2 separate regions of the Homo sapiens genome follow, and region 2 is linked to region 1. The links come from fine-mapping of genetic effects on gene expression. A gene starts in region 1. The other region holds a variant in brackets. All regions are shown on one strand. Distances are from middle to middle. Region 1 holds the start of PTPN20 (protein tyrosine phosphatase non-receptor type 20). Region 2 has its middle 79 kb from the start of FAM245B.

Evidence for each region. PIP is the estimated chance that this variant, and not a neighbour inherited with it, causes the effect.
Region 2: its variant is fine-mapped to the expression of PTPN20 in whole blood (TOPMed, PIP 0.90).

What each region holds. Positions count from the first base shown.
Region 1 is chr10:46,905,999-46,915,544 of GRCh38, reverse strand. PTPN20 (protein tyrosine phosphatase non-receptor type 20) reads right to left here and starts at 4,117. Exons shown (of 11, transcript NM_001042357.5): 1 at 4,044-4,117.
Region 2 is chr10:46,814,858-46,824,403 of GRCh38, reverse strand. It overlaps the pseudogene AGAP13P. Among named protein-coding and RNA genes, the nearest start is that of FAM245B, 79 kb to the right of the region's middle. The variant A/G (reference allele first, on the strand shown) is at 4,671.

The DNA.
Region 1 (9,546 bases):
TTAAAGTTCCCAGGTGATCCCAGTGTGCACTCAAAGTTGAGAATCACTGAAAAAATGGAACCTAGACCTTGGAAATGTACACAACTGAGTGTGCAAGCTACTTAACCTCCCTTAGCCTCAAAATTCTCATCTACAACATGGGAAATATATGTACCTCCCAGAGTTGCTGAAATATTGAGATTCTATATAAGGCTCTCAGGAAATGTAAATTCTCATCCCCAAGGGAAACTTGATCAAATCTTCATAGCTTAGGGTAAGAAATGCTAATTCTACCAGCAATTCACATTTTTCATTGTTAGCTGATTATTTTATTGAACATTTACATTGAGGAAATTCAGAAATGCTCATTTTTCCACTTTCCTGGTGGTAAGATGCTGCCTGAAGCTATGTTTAAATTTTCAAGAGTAAATAAACTATGGCGGGAAATCTAGCTGACTATGCCAGTGAATCTCAAACCTAGCTGTACATTAGAATCATCTCAGAAATTTTTTTAAAGAAACACACGTATGTCCAGAACTCACCAGGCCAAATTAAATCAGAATCCCTGGGGTGGCTCCAGAATATCAGTATTTTTTAAAAAAGCTGATAGAAAGGTAATTGTAAAACACAGTCAGGGCTTAAAAGCACTGATTTGTACTAACGATATGCCATGCTAACTGCACATCACAGTCACTTGGGGAGCTCTTAAAAAAGTTGATTGATTCCAGAACCCTACCGAGACTTACTGATTCAGAATCTGTGGAAGTGGAGCCTGTCATTGTGCAAATCTTCATAAAACTCCCCACTGGTGATTCTGATGCAAACTCACTGAGAACCACTACTTTGTATCATACATTTACTCTACGTGTTGTATATCAGAAAGATCATTTAAAACTTTCAGTGGTCTCAAATGCCAAGCCTGCCAGTTACTTTTAATCAGTAACTGACACAACACATCACAGTAACTCCAATGACTTTACAGATCTTTTCAGAACACTTTTATGTCCAGCCCACTGACCCACATCACCTACCCTATGCTGTGCCAAATACTGGCTATGTAGTCCGTTGGTATTTCTAACCAAATTCCTCTAAATGGGCTGCTGATCTGGGAAAAGCAACATGGAATCACATTACTCCCCAAGCCTTATTCCCCTTTGCTAAGTGGTATGTAATGCCAGGATTAATGAAATGAACTCTATTGGTCAAATGAGTCTGAATGAAATCTGAGTTGTTGTCTGCTCCTGGAAGCAAACTGTTATCTATTTGTTTCCCTCAGAGAGATAAACTCAGAGGAAACAGGAGTGATCCCTGAGGTGGGAATAATATAGTGGGCTGCAATTTTAAAACTCTGCTTAGACAATAACAGGACACTTGGAATCTTATTTTGATAGATCAAACCAATCAGTATATACAGCACCATGGTGGTACTACCAGGCAGGTGATAATAGTAGCATTTAAACAACCAGGCACTATATTAGGCATATTAAATATATTAACTCATGTGATTCTCAACTGCGATGATAATAGCCCTATCAGGCAGGTACTATTATTATTTCCATTTTGTCAAAAAAGAAACAAAGGCACACAGAAGTTAGATGATTTACCCAAAGTCCCATAGCTACTAAGTGGCAGTTTTCTGAAACCAGGCAATCTGGCTTTGGAGTCCAACATCTTAAGTACTCCACTGCAATGCAGATGAGTGATGGCCAAGCAGTTTAAAAAAAAAGAAAAAGTTATTGTCTGCAGTAGAAACTGGAGGTCAGGGTATGGGTACCTTGGGCAAATTACTTAACCTCTTGGAGCCTATTTTTGCATCTGAAAAATCAGGATAATAATTGTACCTGCCTTGTAGAGCTGAGGTGATGATTAAACAAGATTAGGCATGTGATGTGCTTAGAAAAGTACTTGGCACTTTTAAGAGCTTTCTGTCAGCCATTATTATTATTTGTATTTTAAAACAGCTCAAGTGGTCAGGGAGAAATGAAAATCTATTAAACTGAAAATTTTCCTGCCAATCTTAGATTTGTAGATTCTGTAGATTACCAGTACATCAGATCCAATATGAAATGCAGTCATAAAAGATTTTCACAAAAACTTAAGGACTGTCACTGTGACAAACCCCAGCCCAAACAGTCCAGGACAATGGCTCTAAAAAGCAAACATCTTCAATTATCAAGCTGTGTACATGTAAACACAACAGGAACCAGACTTCTGAGTAGCTGCAAACTGCAGTTCTCTGTGATGGGAGAACATGCCCCAGAACAGCCTGTCAAGTGGTAATTGCCAGCCATCCTCAGTCACATATGTATAAACAGAAAAGAAAAACAAAACGAGGGCTCAAATAAAAAGCGTTAACATTCATTAAACGCCTGACACTCTATTAAATGTTTTTCATGCATTACCTTCTTTAATCCTCACAACACCCTTCCAAAGTTGAACATGAAACAACCACACTGGTTTATATCACTTTAAATGTAAGACTACACGTCTCAAATGGGCCCTGAGCACTGCCTGGGAATCCAACTCTATTTCTCTAGTACGCTCACTTTCACCCTCTCTAGGACTCTGTCACATATCTCTCCTCCAAGTTCCCACACCTTTCCTCTCCCCCGCTGCCCTCCCTCTAAGCTGATGGATGCCTATACCAATAGACTCTTTTCCCACCACCCACTGTATCTGCACCTGTTATCTCAGCTTCCCCTCTAGTTACAACAGAGTAAGTGTCCCTGCTCATTTCAAAACCAACTACTCACCTGCTTAGGGTCTTCTCCTTTCTCAGGTATTCAACAACTACCCTTTACAATGTTCCCCTCTTTCATCTGCAGCAGTTTTTCCTTTCTACGAGTTTAATCACATTGCCATATAAACATTCTGCTTTCTTCTATCTTGAAAAAAACTCTACCCAACCTTAAGGCCCCTCTTCCCCATTAAAGTTGTTCTTGTCAAAATGATTAAAATCCTCCTAATTACCAAAGTCATCTTATACGGTAACATTCAACATGGTTGACCACTACCTCCCTCCCTTTTTTGGCTTCGCCTCCTCTTCTTTGTGTACACTATTAAACTAGATGTCTTCACCAGTCCCATATATTTTAAATACTATGTACAGTATATGATGCCGATTCCAAAGGTTAACTCTAGCCCGACATCCTCCAGAACTTCAGATTTAAATTTCTAAAAAGCACATTTGATATCTCAACCCAAATATCTACTAGATAATTTATGTGTGTATATTTCACCATACTAAAAAAAACTACCAGGTGACTGATAAATGGAGAGAAGGTGAATAGGTAATGTGAAAAATCAAATGTGCTAAATATTCATGGCACCTGTAGGTGGTAGGTGGTCAGAGTCCTCTGCAAAATTCTTCCCAGCTATGCTTATGTCTTCTATTGGGAAAAACCTACTGGGCATCTCAAACCTAACACATTCAAAACATAAGTACTGATTCCACAACTTCCAAAAATGAAACCTACCCCATCCTACAGTTTTCCTTGAGTCAAGGCTAGCATATGAGGGCCTTGGCATATGGGGGCATTGCCTATCGCGTTCATAGATATTCTGAGCTTCTAGAACAGCATCTGGCACACAGGAGGCGTTCAAAATAGCTGCTGAATGGATTGATGAATTCATGTTCTTTCTTTCTAGGTCCCTCGACCTCCACCCGCCCTTGAGTCATTGGGAAGTTCTGGGCTGTCTCAGCGCCTGATGATGGCTTCTTACCAATCATACCACACGGCTGCTCCTCAGGGAGTTGGTGGCATTCCCCTACCACAGAGCCACAGGGTTCCTGTCCCGGTCCCGTCTCGCATAGGCGCCCCAACACGCGTCACAGTGCAGCTGGCATCACACGGCCAGAATCACGTCCTGCCCTCTGGCTGCAGCGACACTACTTCACAGCTCAGGCCCACCCGGGCAGTCTCCCGGGCCAGGGCCACAACCCACGCCTTGTGACCCCTGCACGTCAACGGCATCTTCCTTCTTCACGCCCGCCCTCCCACAGCCCGGCGCAGCGGCCTCCCGCACGCCCCCTGCCCACCTGGCCCCCAGCCACCTTTCCTCACCTGGGCCTGCGGGGCCGCCCCAACTGTCCCGCTGCAACCCCAGCAGCCTCGCCAGTTGGGTCCACGCCTAGCCTGCCGGCCTTCGTCGCTATCCAATCCCACCTGCGCCCGCGAGCCTGCGCACTGGAGCTTTGCCCTGCGCCGCGGCACTCTGCCCTGCGCCGCGGCCCTCTGCTTGCCAGGCCGGGAGAGACAGAACCTGCCTCTACCGGTCTTCCAAGGCACTGAGAGCCCATCGCCGCGGACGCCGCTGTAAATTCCCTGCGGGCCCTGTGCACCACCCTGTGCGGGTCCCCCTCTCCCAGGCCAGGCTGATAATGTCAACAGCTCTCTGAGCTATGCTCATATCCTGAACCACTGAGGACTGTGTTCTCCAGGAATGCTCGCCTGACCCACGCCTGCCCTCTAAGCCCCTAATGAGGCCCCAGAGGGCTGGGGTGGGGGGGTCTCTTTGTAGTATCAGAGCAGGGCAGATAGGCAAAAGGAGTCAGAGCCTGTGCCAGAATATGAGGTCAGTTGGCTGCTAGGTCAATTAAGACAACTTCAGCAAGGGTGGTCAATGTAGAGGGAATTCAATCGTTGGCATTGCCTGAAAACAGGAAGCCAGAATCTTTTTATCTTGACGAACAAACCTCTATTCATTGGTCCTGACCTGAGCCACTTTGGTGAATCCAGATACCCTGAAGGTGTGACAAGACCTGCCTCACTTATCCCCCAGCCTTCAGTGCTGGTCCCACAGAGAGCCATATGCTTGAGCTGAACTGCAGTTAAGCAGTGACAGCTACCCTCTGTCCAGGCTCTGAGGCCAGCCTTCTGCTCCGTGAGTCACTGACAGTGAGTCTCTACAGAGACTTTTTCTTTCTGTAGCAGCCAAGGTACCCTGCAAGCAACCCACGCCATTGCCATATGTCTTAGTTTGTTTGTGTTGCTATAAAGCAATACCTGAGGCTGGGTAATTTATAAAGAAAAGAGGTTTGTTAGTTTCACAGTTTCACAGGCTGTAAAAGAAACATGGCACCACCACCCGCTTTTGATGAGGGCCTCAGGAAGCTTCCACTCATGGCAGAAGACAAAGGAGAGCCAATGTGTGCAAGACAGAGGAAGAGAGAGAGGTGGGAGGTGCCAGGCTCTTTTCCATGACCAGTTCTCATGAAAACAAAGACTAAGAACTCACTCAGTTCCATGAGACTAGCACCAAGTCATTCATAAAGGATCTACCCACATGACCCAGACACTTCCCACCAGGCCCCACCTCCAACATTGGGGATCAAATTTCAACACTAGATTTTATTTATTTATTTATTTATTTTGAGATGGAGTCTCGCTCTGTCGCCCAGGCTGGAGTGCAGTGGCGTGATCTCAGCTCACTGTAATCTCCACCTCCCCAGTTCAAGTGATTCTCCTGCCTCAGCCTCCCCAGTAGCTGGGACTACAGGAGCATGCCACCATGCCTGGCTAATTTTTGTATTTTTAGTAGAGACGAGGTTTCACTGTGTTGGCCAGGCTGGTCTTGAACACCTGACCTCAGGTGATCCGCCCGCCTCAGCCTCCCAAAGTGCTGGGATTACAGGCATGAGCCAACGCACCCAGCCCAACATTAGATTTAGATGGGACAAATATCCAAACTATATCACCAGGGTAAGATTCCCCTTTAAAGATGGACCCCATGTCTAATGTTTCTTCATAGTGCCTAACATCAAGATTCTGCACTGGTCATCATTTCACAAACATGAGCAGCATGGCTGCTCCAAGACACACAGAGGGAATAACCCCCATTCACATCACCAGGAAATCCTTGCATGGAGGCTAAATGAACAGTTGGTAAGAGTGGACCCTGAGGTGTCATTCCATCTCCCCCAGACTTCCTGCTTGACCACACAATATTCCCAGAAGCCAGTGACCCAGAAGGCTCTTCTTGGCTTTCTGTCCTTTTACCTGTGAAAAATTCGAAGAACTATAAAGTTTAGGGCCCATCACAGTTTACTACCCTTCTTTGGAGGCCTCTTTAAACCCTTGAGTCTTACCAATTACCAGTAGCACTAGGAGCTTTGCAAGCCTGGCCTTAAGTCCCTGCTTTGCTACTGAATAGTTGGTGACCTTTGGCAGGTTACTTCCCAACTTGTGTCTCAGTTTTCCTTTTTTTAAAAAAGGAGACACAGTTGCAAGTGTTTAATGAGACAAAAAACAGAAGCATTCATCACCACGCCTGGCAGTGAACACTGCTTTTCTTGCTCAAGAGGTTTGAGCCATACGCTTCTCTAGGTCTGTGACTCTCCCAGAGTTTCTGGGAGTTCCTCTGTGAGCAACAGACCCACTGCAGTCTCCATACTTCAGGGGTAAGCCTGGATGCCCTTCACACATCAGTCTGGATGAGTTCATGCACCACTCATCCAAAAGTGAATCCAAAAGTGATTCCAAAAGCAGAGGCCAGAGATCTAGTTGCTAATGTTGCCTCTCCTCATGGTTCTAGGATTCAGCCACACAGGGCTTCCCATTGCAGCTTCAGGTCCTCCTCACTCCCCAGTGCAGGCCCAGTTTCACTCTCAGGTCCTCCAGCCCAGGCCTCAGTTCTGCCTCTTTTAGTCCATCCCTCCAGATCCACTTTCCAACAGGGCTGGGAAGTCGCTTGGTTGTCCCCTGCCTGCTGCACCACAGCCCCCAGACACCGCCTCCTTATTTCCTGCATGGTCCGAGGCTCAATGCTAATCCCTGGGTGTCTTAGTCTGTTTTGTGCTGCTATAACAGAATTCCTGAGCCTGGATAATTTGTAAAGAACAAAACATTTTTTTCTCACAGTTCTGGAGAATGGGAAGTCCAAGATCAGGTGCCAGCATCTGGTGTGAGTCTTCTTGCTGCATCCTCCAGAGGAGAGGAACATTGTGTCCTCATGTGGCAGAAGGCAGAGAGCAAATAGGAAAAAGGAAGGCAAACTCACCCTCTTCTAATAGCATTAATCTCACCCAGAAGGACAGAGTCCTCATGGTCCTTTCACCTCCCGAAGGTCCCACCTCCTAACACTGCCACAGCAGCAACCAAATTTCTTTGAATATTAATACATGAGTGTGGGAGGGGACAAACATTCAAATCATCACACTGGGAAGGCTCAGCTGGAGGAGCAGAATTGGCCAGCACAGGGAGGTAATGCTGGGTTTGGAATTTTTGTCTTTGCAGTCCTTGGCCTTGATCCGGATACCCAGACGCCCTCTGAGATGGACCTTGAGGGCCGTGCCAATGTCTGCTCTCTGCTGAGGTAGGGCTCATCTACTCCTTACAAGTATAAGAACTTACTGCCAAACATACCCTCCTCCAAGCCATGGGTCCCCAGATACAGTCAGGAGGACCCCAGTGGATAGCTGGAACTCAGGACCTCAGGAGAGATCCCAAGGCCTATGCTCGAGTTCAGAGTTTTCTAATTCAGGCTTGGAGCCCAGGAACAGAAGATAACTAAGAACAATACTGACAGAAAAAAATAATCACTTCATTGACATTACCCTTCACAGGACCGCCTGCTTCAGGCCTGTGCTTTGCAGCCTGGTTCATTTGGGAATGGTATGCTTCACACCCAGCCCTGTTAAGTGTGAGTTGATGAGGACCATGAGCTTGGAAGAAGCCGTGGGGGCCTCTCTGTGTGTTTCTCTCTGCCCTGCTTTGAGACACTTCACATAAAAGACTCTATAAAAATAAACTGTGGAGATTTCAATGCCAGTAAAAATCCCAGTGGAGGTAGAAAACTATTTAAAGAGCACAAGGACATACATTTATCTTGTTGTGAATCCCCGGCTGCCTGGTCCCTGAGCCTGACACACGGCAGATGCCCAATAAATATTAATAGATTGATCAATTTGTTGGCTGCTCATCCATTTGCAGCTTCAGCCAGCCCATGGCTCTGCGTGCACACACCACAAGGAGAGAGAATCCATAGACTTCGACAGGAGAGAGCTGCTCAGCTGGCAGGAGAGCCTGCCACAAACCCTTGAACATAAATGTCCTGCCCTCCACTTCCAGCTCTACGTACTAACTGTAAAATAATGATGTGGCAGAAAGTGAAGTGCAAAGACTGCCAAATTCTAAGAAAGAACCTGGTTTCATGCCTTTTAATCCTTATGAGTCATTCCTTGGTCTGCGCCAAGCCCTGTGCTTTACAGCAAGAATACAGATGTCTTCATTGAACTGCATCTCATTAGCTGGACCTAACAGAGTGCAAATTTCTTTCCAATGCCATTTGAACTCAATGCCCAGATGCTTTTTTCCCCTGGGCCCGTGCAGATGAAATCTTGGGCTGGTTTATAACTTTGAACACCCAGAATATTCCCATTTCAGTTTAAGATTCCCTCTGACTTATCTAATTGTTAGGCTCTCTTCACCTTCAGCCTGAGAAATGGGTACCATCAATTTCTCCTTTCTCACCCAGCTTCACACCCAGGCCCTCCAGACTCAGTGGGTGTCTGACACCTCTACAGCTGGAGTCCTTCAGCAATGGGCCCCCTGGGCTCAGCAGATATTTTGAGCTGGCCATTTCTTCTGTGAGACAATCTTGTGTTTTCTCAGGAATTCCCCTGCAGAAGATCTCTGAGTACAAACCCATGCCCAGTGATGTTGCCTCTGCCCAGCTACTTACAAGACCATTCCTCGGCCCATCCAGGGCTACCAATCTGTTTATGTAATTTGTGCCATGAATAAAGGTACCAGACAAATGAGTAAGTGGAGGCTGAGTTGTAGGCATGGTTTTGTGCCCCAATAATGGGCTGCACAGGAAAGGAAGGGCCACCTTTGTGTAATTCATAAGCTACAGGTGGATGCCTTTTTGTGATTCCCCCTAATGCATGCTCTGTGTGAGCTGAGGCTCTGGCTCTCTCTCTGCTGGGGTCAACATCACCCCTGCTTGTTTTACAGGCTATGACCTGCCTGCAGCTTACTTGCCTACATAAAAAGGGCATCCGCGCCCTTGCCCTGACACGGGGATTGGCGGTTCACTCCTAGCGCCATCCTCTTTCTCTTTGCTCTCCCGCCAGACATGTTGTTGCCGTCATCACCTCTCACCATGAGATTGCTCAGGGATGTTCCAGACACCAAGCCCTTTCAGAAGACACATGTCAAACCCTGTATATGATTTGAGCAGTCTTTCTCATGTGGCTGGAGGGAAAGGAGAGGTACCTCATTCCTCTCCCCTCCACAAGGAGGGGAAAGAGGTATGGAAGGGGAAATGTCATAGCATTCCAACAACTCTTTTCAGAGGAATTTTCTACTCCTGGCCTCAATTTTTTATAAACCCTCATGGGTGTGTTAGTGGTGGAAGTTATCTAGGTTATCGGTGGCAAACCTGTATGGGTCTGCAGCAATCTCAACTCTTGCCTCCTCAGAAGAAAGAATCTGAGGTGCATAAGGCAGAAGGAGAGGCCAAGACAAGTGTTAGAGCAGGAGTGAAAGTTCATTAAAAGGCTTTAGAGCAGGAACAAAAGGAAAGAAAGTACACTTGGAAGAGGCCCAGGTGGGCAACTTGAAG
Region 2 (9,546 bases), 91 kb after region 1:
AGATACCATGGCTTAAACCTGAGATATAAAGAAAACTGTACACCAAAAATGGAACTCCAACTTTCTTCACTAACTCTGTTTTTCCTTTCCAGGCCTGCTTTTACTTTCCAGGCAGAAAATTGGGAGATCCTTCTCAGAAGAAACTGAAATGTCTTCAATAAAGATCCCCAGATAATACACTGAGGTCTCCCAAATGAAAAGCTAGTCAGGCTTCTAAGGCCTCACACTGAGTGCTATCAGTTAACAGAAATCCTGCTTCCAAATAAAGCAGGCCAGGGACCACCACACATTGGAGGGAAGCCTCCAAGAAAAGAGATCAAAACAATAGAAAAAAGGAATTGATAGGACCAGTCAAAATCAGGAGCAAAACTTTAAAAAAAAATCTTAAAACACTCTCAAAAAATATAAAATTCAATAGAAATAGTAGAGGATAAAGTCACAGAATATCCCAGAACTAGAATAAAAAGACAAACTGAAAAAAATACAAGGGGAAAAATTAAAAATCAATGCAGGCATATTGGTCTAAGCAGCCTAGCATCTGAATAACAAGACTATCAGTAAAAAAGTAACAGAGAAAATAAAAAAAAATTCTCAAGAAGAGATAGTCTGCAGGTTTAGTAGCCTCAATAAAATGAAAAGATCCCCAACAAGCTGTTATAAAATTTCAGAACCTTAGAGAGAGAGATTCTAAAAAGCTTCCACAGATAACTAAAACCTGGTTGTAAATAACGTATCACACACTGGCAATAGATTCAAGAACAACACTGTAATAAGAGCACAACTGCAAAATGTCTTCAGAACCACAACATTTAGATTCAACCTAGAGGTGTACTCTCTATCAAAGAGGAGGGATTTTAACATCTCCACACAGGAAAATGTGTTCAAGTACAACTAGAGACGATAACAGGACAGAAGGAAACACAGAATCTAGGACTCAGGTGATCCCACACAAGACAGCAGTTACGTGAGATACCAAAAGACTTTAAAGAGTTAGCCCAGAAAAGCAGACATTGAGCATATCTAGGGAAACCCACGCTATATTGAACTAGGATGACAAAAGGCCAAAGAAAGTTGCCCCCCACACAAACATAAAAAGGAACAGATGTGTTTTCGCAGATGGAAAATATCTTTGAAAGGCATGTGATAAATGCTACAATACTTGGGGGAAAACAGCTGTTAGAAAACAGGCAAATGAATATAGTCAGAAAATTAGCTTCATGCTAAAAAATAATGGATGTGAAAGCAAACAGAGCACCCAGAGGCTACTTAACGATATTTGGATAGATAAACTAATGTAGGCTAGGAAAAAAGAAGATCCAGGAGAATTGCAGAAGTGCTCAGATTTCAGAACTGTTTCAGAGACAGGATGAAGGACATGGAATGCAGAGGCACAGTGAAAACACCATATGACTTAGCAGTGAATAATATTTGCAGAGTCATAATCATGTAAATATTACTGATTTAATTAAAAAGTGTGCTACAATTGGAAGAAACACAGGGAGAAACATAAGATCATGGTGTAGCGGGGAAGGTATGCTTTTACCTGCTGTGACAGAAAGTCAATAGACAGTGCTGGCAATTAACTTAGCTATTCTATTTTTGTTCTTTCATTAAAAATAAGATTAAATATTTAAGGCAATTTTTTTTTTTTTTTTTTTTGAGACAGAGTTTCGCTCTGTCGCCCAGGCTGGAGTGCAATGGTGCGATCTTGGCTCACTGCAACCTCCGCCTCCTGGGTTCAAGTGATTCTCCTGCCTCAGCCTCCTGAGTAGCTGAGATTACAGGCATGCACCACCACGCCCAGCTACTTTTGTATTTTTAGTAGATACAGAATTTCACCATGTTGGTCAGGGTTGTCTCAAACTCCTGACCTCAGATGATCAGCCTGCCTCGGCCTCCTAAAGTGTTGTGATTACAGACGTTAACCACCATGCCCAGCCTTAAGGCAGGTCTTTTGAACCGGACTATTGAAATTTAACTTAAATGTCAGAAATCTTTAAAAGGTGGACACGCTAAACTAAGCACTTTTCTGGATAAATTTAATACTCAGGAAAATAGAAGAGATTTAGAAAATCCACAAAAAGAGGTCCATGCTACCACCACCAGGTCCACATTGTAATTTAAAGAAATCAAGAGAGACATCCTTTTATGTCAAACTATCAATTTCTTAACTATTTGAGTGTTTACTTACATGGTTTGTACAGTTGCTTCTTCTTATTTCTACAACTAAGAATAAAAAAAAAAAAAAACTGGTCACTTCTGATACAAATACCATAAAATAAAAGTAGTTGTTAACATCTTACTGATTACTCCTATGAAAAATGAGACAAAATTCCATTAAAAAAAAATTTTCAATAACATATAATTTAAATTATCTGGCATGATTAATTTCATAAGTCAAATCTAAAAACTTAGATTTTCATTTAGTTTACTTTTTGTTTCTATTACATACAAATGAAAGAATCCTCATGTACAAAAGAAAAGGGCAAAAAAATTAGGCCAGATGAAAAATTTAGCTAATAAAAAGTTTAACTGTTGCATATATGAGCCATGATCCATTAGTATTCTCTCATTCTGCATTTACACATAGCTTACTTTAATTATCAGACTCTAAGAGCTAACAGTTCTAAAAACTACTTCCTGACCAGACACCTATCTCTAGATGCAACAGAATCCCTGTAAGCATCTTGAACCACACTTAGTGGTTATCTACTAATATGTCACTAAAAACAAAACAAAATTAAAAAATGGTCTTTACACAACTGGAAAGTAACCTATCTTAAATTTGTTTTCTTTTTTGAGATGGAGTCTCACTCTGTCACCTAGGCTCGAGTGCAGTGGCGGGATCTCAGCGCACTGCAACCTCTGCCTCCCAGGTTCAAGAAATTCTTCAGCCTTAGCCTCTGGACTAGCTGGGACCACAGGCACGTGCCACCATGCCTAGCTAATTGTTTTTTGTATTTTTAGTAGAGACAGAGTTACACTGTGTTAGCCAGGATGGTCTTGATCTCCTAACCTCGTGATCCACCCACCTCAACCTCCCAAAGAGTTGGGATTACAGGTGTAAGCCACAGAGCCTGGCCTAAATTTTGATGTTAAAATAAGTATACAAACCTAATTGGACATGGTGTCTGCAGCACAAAAAAATCATTTTTTTTTCCCTAAAAAGAGGCCAGAATAATAAAAGCCCCAAGAGGGACTTGGGCCATGCTTTGTTTCCTACACTGCCTCTGCCTTTGATGCTGGGAGGGCCTTGTAGGCAAAAGTTACTACCACTGAAGAGTGAGGGACATGGAATAGCTTTTCTTTTACTGCTTCCATGCTCTCTAGGTGTGAGAAGCCCATGGCTCTGGAAGGAACTGGGAAATACAATTCTGATATGTTTTGGATATGTTGCCCCTCCAAGTCTCATGTTAACATGTGACCCTTAATGTTGGAGATAGGGCCTAGTGGGAGGCGTTTGGGTAATGGCAGTGATTCCTTATGAATGGCTTGGTCCCATCCCCATGGTAATAAGCACATTCTCATTACGGTAATTTAAAAGACTGTGGTACTGGCCAGGTGCGGTGGCTGAAGCCTGTAATCCCAGCACTTTGGGAGGCTGAAGCGGGTAGATCACTTGAGGTCAGGAGTTTCAGACCAGCCTGGCCAACATGGTGAAACCCTGTCTCTGCCAAAAATACAGAAATTAGCCAGGTGTTATGGTGCCCACCTATAGTCCCAACTACTCGGGAGGCTGAGGCAGGAGAATTGCTTGAACCTGGGAGATGGAGGTTGTAGTGAGCCAAGATCGTGCCATTGCACTCCAGCCTGGGCAACAGAGTGAGACTCCATTTCAAAAAAAAAAAAAAAAAGAGTGTGGTACCTTCCCCCTTCCCCTCTCTCTTTCACCGTGTGGAACCACCTGCTTCCCCTTTGCCTTTTATCATGATTGTAAGTTTGCTGAGGCCCTCACCAGAAGCAGATGTTAAAGCCATGTTGGTACAGCCTGAAAATCTTTGAGCCAATTAAACCTCTTTTTGTTATAAATCACCCAGCCTTAGGTATCTCTTTATAGTAATGTAAAAAATGAAGACAAATTCTAACCAGAAATAACTGACTCAAGATGGGCAAAGTCTACTCAAACTATAAAAACAAAGGTTACAAACTCCCGTGTTTTACTGTGCTGCATTACTTCGCACACTATTATAGAACCCTCACTTGTATTCTTGCTGTTTAAGTCAACTGGAAAACTTGGCTGTGTATGGCTTGTTGGCAAATAAATAAGGATTTAACATAACATTAAGGGAAATAAGCAGGAGTAGGGCACGTTTAAATTTACATTACATCGAATGAAAAAGTTAATAACCTAAAACTTTTGAGTAGCATGAACTTGGATGTGGTAAATGAATGTGGTCAGAGGACTGTGTAAGAGGAGGCCCAAATCACAGATTCAATCCCTGATGATAAACAACTATGTTTTTTAAGTTGTTTAAATGAAAACCAAGCTGAAGCCTAAGTTCTATCATTCATCTTTAAAGTGTACTTTTTGGAGCAAGGGAAAAGGGATTATAAATAAAGATAAATCCATTAATTATAAATAAAGATAAATCCAAGAATTATAAAGAGAAATCCATGACTCCTCCATCACATCACAAATTAATTGTGTTGATAAAAAGATGGCAAAATGT[A/G]TAAACAAAAAGGTTACACATTTTCACTAACATCATAACAACTAAAGGAAAGTATATCACATATTCAAATGAGACAAGTGAACATGTGAAAAGGTGAAAAATTTAAACCAATATGAGTTTTTCTAAATACTTTCTATAACCTGATCAAACAAGAGATTTTATTCTTTCTCTTGGCGGAAAAAACAATGTCGTCTCACCATCTGTTTGAGAGTTCCTCTGGAATATTGTGCTTGCCTCTGGATTGGCAGAAGGGTTAAACTCCAAAGCTATATGCATAGAGGAAGAAAAGAAAAAAAGATGTAATCATTGATAAAAATTTATCAACTCATTTATTCGACTGCTGCATTTAGGCTATTTCACTATCTCTACTTTGATTCTTATCCATTGAAATGAATGTATAGACATAAGATAGAGCCAGGCAAGATGGCACATGCTTGTAGTCCCAGCTACTCAGGAGGCTGAGATGGGAAAATCACTTGAACCCAGGTCAGGAAGTTGAGGCCAGCATGAGTAACACAATGACACCCTCCTTTATTTAAAAAAAAAAAAAAAAAAAGAGGTAAATTTTGGCTTTGAGTTGTGTAAAATCAACTTTGCATAAAATAAATCAAGATAGCAGTAAGTTTTAAAAGACAGTCTATTTTATAGGCAAAATATAAGATGTATTCTAGAGTTTTTAAAATTTTTAAAAAGTAAATTCATCATATCTGTCACTTCCATTTCATTCTGAGGACACAGAACCTTAGTTCTCTTGAGTAGCTGTCTTCCATAGTCATGTGATATCTCTAAGTTTTCATTTCTTCATTAGCAATACATAGGGAGAACATACACAGGCCTTATTTGTATTGGAAAGGGCCAAGTGAGACATACATAAACTGTGTTGTAATCCTAAAGAATGACAATAAAGAGCCATTTTTGGGCTCTCATCCAACACTACCCATCTACTAACTGGTGTGTAACATCCATCAGGCTTTCCGAACATCACCAAGCAGAGTATAAGTTTACACAAGTACTTACATGCTTTGTGTATAAAGGTACAATCAATTAATTCACATAATGCATTTGTTTATTCTAAAGCAATCCTTAAATATCTTGAAATGTGAAGATAGTACTTCCAAGTTACAAAGTCACACTCATAATGAGTCTTAATTATCCTACCTCTTTAAAAATTAAGAGCCCGACCAAAGTTTAAATAGAAGAGCTATAAGACATTTCCTCTACAGTGATGAAATCTCTGGCATTTAAATGAAACCAATAAGCCAACTGGATTTAATATGTTTATGATGCAATGTTTTCTATTTTGAAAATTTCAGTTTTTATTCAAGAACCATATTATTACCCAGAATTACTTTTACTTAGATTCATCTCTTTGCAAAATTTTAGAGGCAAACCAACTAATTGTTTTCTCTTTTCTACCGGCTCCCATCCCCTGCCTCTGCCAGCAGTGTAGAGACTAAAAAACTCCAACTTTCTTTCCTTTTTTTTTTTGTGAGACGGAGTCTCGCTCTGTCACCCAGGCTGGAGTGCATTGGCGTGATCTCTGCTCACTGCAACCTCCACCTCCTAGGTCCAAGCAATTCTCCTGCCTCGGCCTTGTGAGTAGCTGGAACTACAGTCATGCGCCACTACGCCCAGCTAATTTTTGTATTTTCTTTTTTAGTAGAGACAGTGTTTCACTATGTTGGCCAGGCTGGTCTCGAACTCCTGACCTCAGGTGATCCGCCTGCCACGGCCTCCCAAAGTGCTGGGATTACAGGCGTGAGCCACCAAGCCCAGCCAAAACTGTAACTTTCTTATCTTTGAACAAGATGCTATTGTCAGGAGGGGAAGGGACAAAGGGGGAGCCATGGCAACAAACACTCTAACAGGGAAGGTCTGACATTTTAACCTGCAATCTTTATATTACACATTAAAAGTCTACGTTGACGTTTCATGTCTTTTGAAAGTTTTGACCATGAACCAATCCCCACCTCTCTTTTAGAACAAGGAGGTAAATAAAGTCTGTTAAGTCACCAGAATAAATCTGGAGACACATTTTCTGTTAAAGTAAGAATTTTAAAGTAATCAGAGCCTCATAGGTAAACTCCTTTGAGAAACCCCAAACACACACACACAACCATTTTTCTGCAGCCCCGGCTGTGACATTTCACACCTTTCACAATTATTTTAAGCATTCTCCTTTTTTCTTTTTCCTTCTGTGTTCAAATTACAGTTAGAAGAAACTAAGCAGCTTCTATCAAGGTGACTTAAAGCAGCCCATTAAGAATACCATATAGCCTCTCCCGTGGCAACCTCCATTCTGATTTTAAATAAGAAATCCCCAAATATTTGAATAGGAACTGTCCTGAGATTTGGCTACTTTAACAAAGGAAACAATTAGGCACTTACCTGGTTCCTTCACTTAGGTACCATCTGGATAGGTACAAAGAAAAAATAAGATGGGTACTGAAAAGTTGGGATATTTGAGTTTTTATTGAGAAAAGGAAGAGAATAGCTCAAAGAAGCCTAAACAAAGTCCCACAGGATAATAAACAGAGCTACAGACACTGTTGTCTCACCATCTGTTTGAGAGTTCCTCTGGAATATTGTGCTTGCCTCTGGATTGGCAGAAAGGTTAAACTCCAAAGCTATATGTATAGAGGGAGAAAAGAAAAAAGATGTAATCATTTATAAAAATGTATCAACTCATTTATTCAACTGCTGCTTATTCGACAAGAGCCATAAATAAATGGCCCCATGCCAGCCTGGGAGAATGAGATGAGAGAGCAAGAACTGGGCGATTGGGAGGGGAGGCGAAAAGAAACTGACTGGACTCGGTGGGGAAAGACTAAGGGGTGGGAATTCAAGGCAGAGCCAGTTTTGTTCCTGGCCAGCCCCCGGGAAAGCTGGCTACAAGCAGAAAGGAGCTCGAAGTGGGGGATGCCTCAAAGGGAACCTTGGGGACAGCAGCAGCCAAAGGCAAACCGAGGGTAGATGGCACCTATCACCTCCTCACCTTCAGGCATCTCCCGGTCACGAACCTGGTGCATGTGGAGGTCCTCACCAACTTCAACAGTCACCTCAGCAGGCTGTACAGCAGCAGCCATGGGCGCTCCTGCCATCCTGTCCTCAGCTCCTGCCTCATAGATCTCAGATTCAGAGGGACACACCGACCCCTGCTGCTGGTCAAACTCGAGGCTGACGCTAGGGTGCACACGACAGGTCAGTATGTTCCCCATGGGGCGCCTCTACTGTCTGCCACCACCTGTGCCTCTGCTCACAGCTTTGGCCACGCACTCCCGCTGTCCTAGGCCGAGGCTATGCTGCACTTGCAGAGATGGTCTTCCCGCTCCTCGCCTGCCCACCTCACAGCGCGGCCCCGGGCACCAGCCCTGGCCCCGGCCCCGGCCCCGGCCCCGGCTAGGGTTGCGGGCCAAGGCCCGCACCCTGCTGCCTCCCCTGAGTTGACTTGTCTGGGAGGGTGAAGACCAGCCGGCTTATTTAATAGGTTGTGAACCCAACAAGCGCTGAGAGACACAACAACTGCCTGAAGAGAGAACAGACGGAGCTCCTTCTCCTTCTGTAGTCACCTACAGACTGAAGCCCACTGGCCCCAGGTGGGAGCCCAGGCATGTGGCACACAATGCCCCACCCCCCACTTCACAATGCCCTCCCCGACACCTCACAGTGCCCCACCCTGCCTGCCACCCCTCCCCAACAGCTCAGAATGCCCCTGCCTTGGCTGCCCCACCCTGTGGCTTATGATGCTGCTGCTCTCCTGGCCCCTCGTGCAGTGCCAGTGGGACTAAGGTTTTCATTCATCACCAGCTTCCTGAGATTTTAGTCCTAAGAAAAGCACAGGGTAGTTCATTCCTTGAAGCCAGCTTCCTCTATGAGTTCTATACAAAGCCTCAGTAGAGTGGGTCCCATTAGCAACCAAGTTGAACAACTTTTATTTGCTGTCTGAATATAGATACACCTGAATTGTTGACTGCTTTTGTAACTAAACACTCCTCTCCTGTCTTCCAACGAGTGGTCATTTTTGTCCGCAACTTGACCACAGCAATCCCTGGGGCCCTAGCTCTACTCTCAATAAAGAGTTATGGCTGTGTGTTTTGAATGACACCTTAGGACCCATCCTGCCTCCACCTCCTTCTCCATAAAATAGAAACCTAACTGGCACCTCCAAGCTCTGAAATGCTGAAACTTACCAACTCCCTTTTCTCCCCGCTATTTCTTCCTTCCATGGCAGGGACTTTCAGGTTTTCTTTCTTTTACTAACAAGGCACTAAGCATGATTTTCTCATACAAAATCGAGAGCCATAAAGTGGCTTACCACAGTCCTATTTCAATAAAGATGAATACTCGACATCTGGCAAGTAGTGTGTGCCTGACAGTGTCCCCACTGTGCTATGCTCATTTAACCCTCAGAAACAATCTCATGTTACAGATTTTACAGAAGTTGTTGAGATGGAGAAGGTAAGTAACCTCCCCAAGGTCACATGACTGCTAAGGGTGGGGCCATAGTTTGATCCCAGGTAGTCTGAATTCCCCAATTGCTTAAGCATGAGTATCAGAAAGTATAGCAGTCTGTTTTCACACTGATATAAAGAAACACCTGAGGTTGGGTAATTTTTAAAGGAAAGAGGTTTAATTGACTCAGTTTCACATGGCTGGGGAGGCCTCAGGAAACTTAACAATCATGGCAGAGGGGGAAGTCCTTCAGGAAACTTACAATCATGGCAGAAGGGCAGGTCCGACTTACATGGTGGCCGCACAGAGAGTGGGAACATGTGAAGGAGCAACTGTCAAACATGTATAAAACCATCAGATCTCAGCTGGGCACGGTGGCTCACACTTGTAACCCTAGTACTTTGGGAGGCCAAGGCAGGTGGAT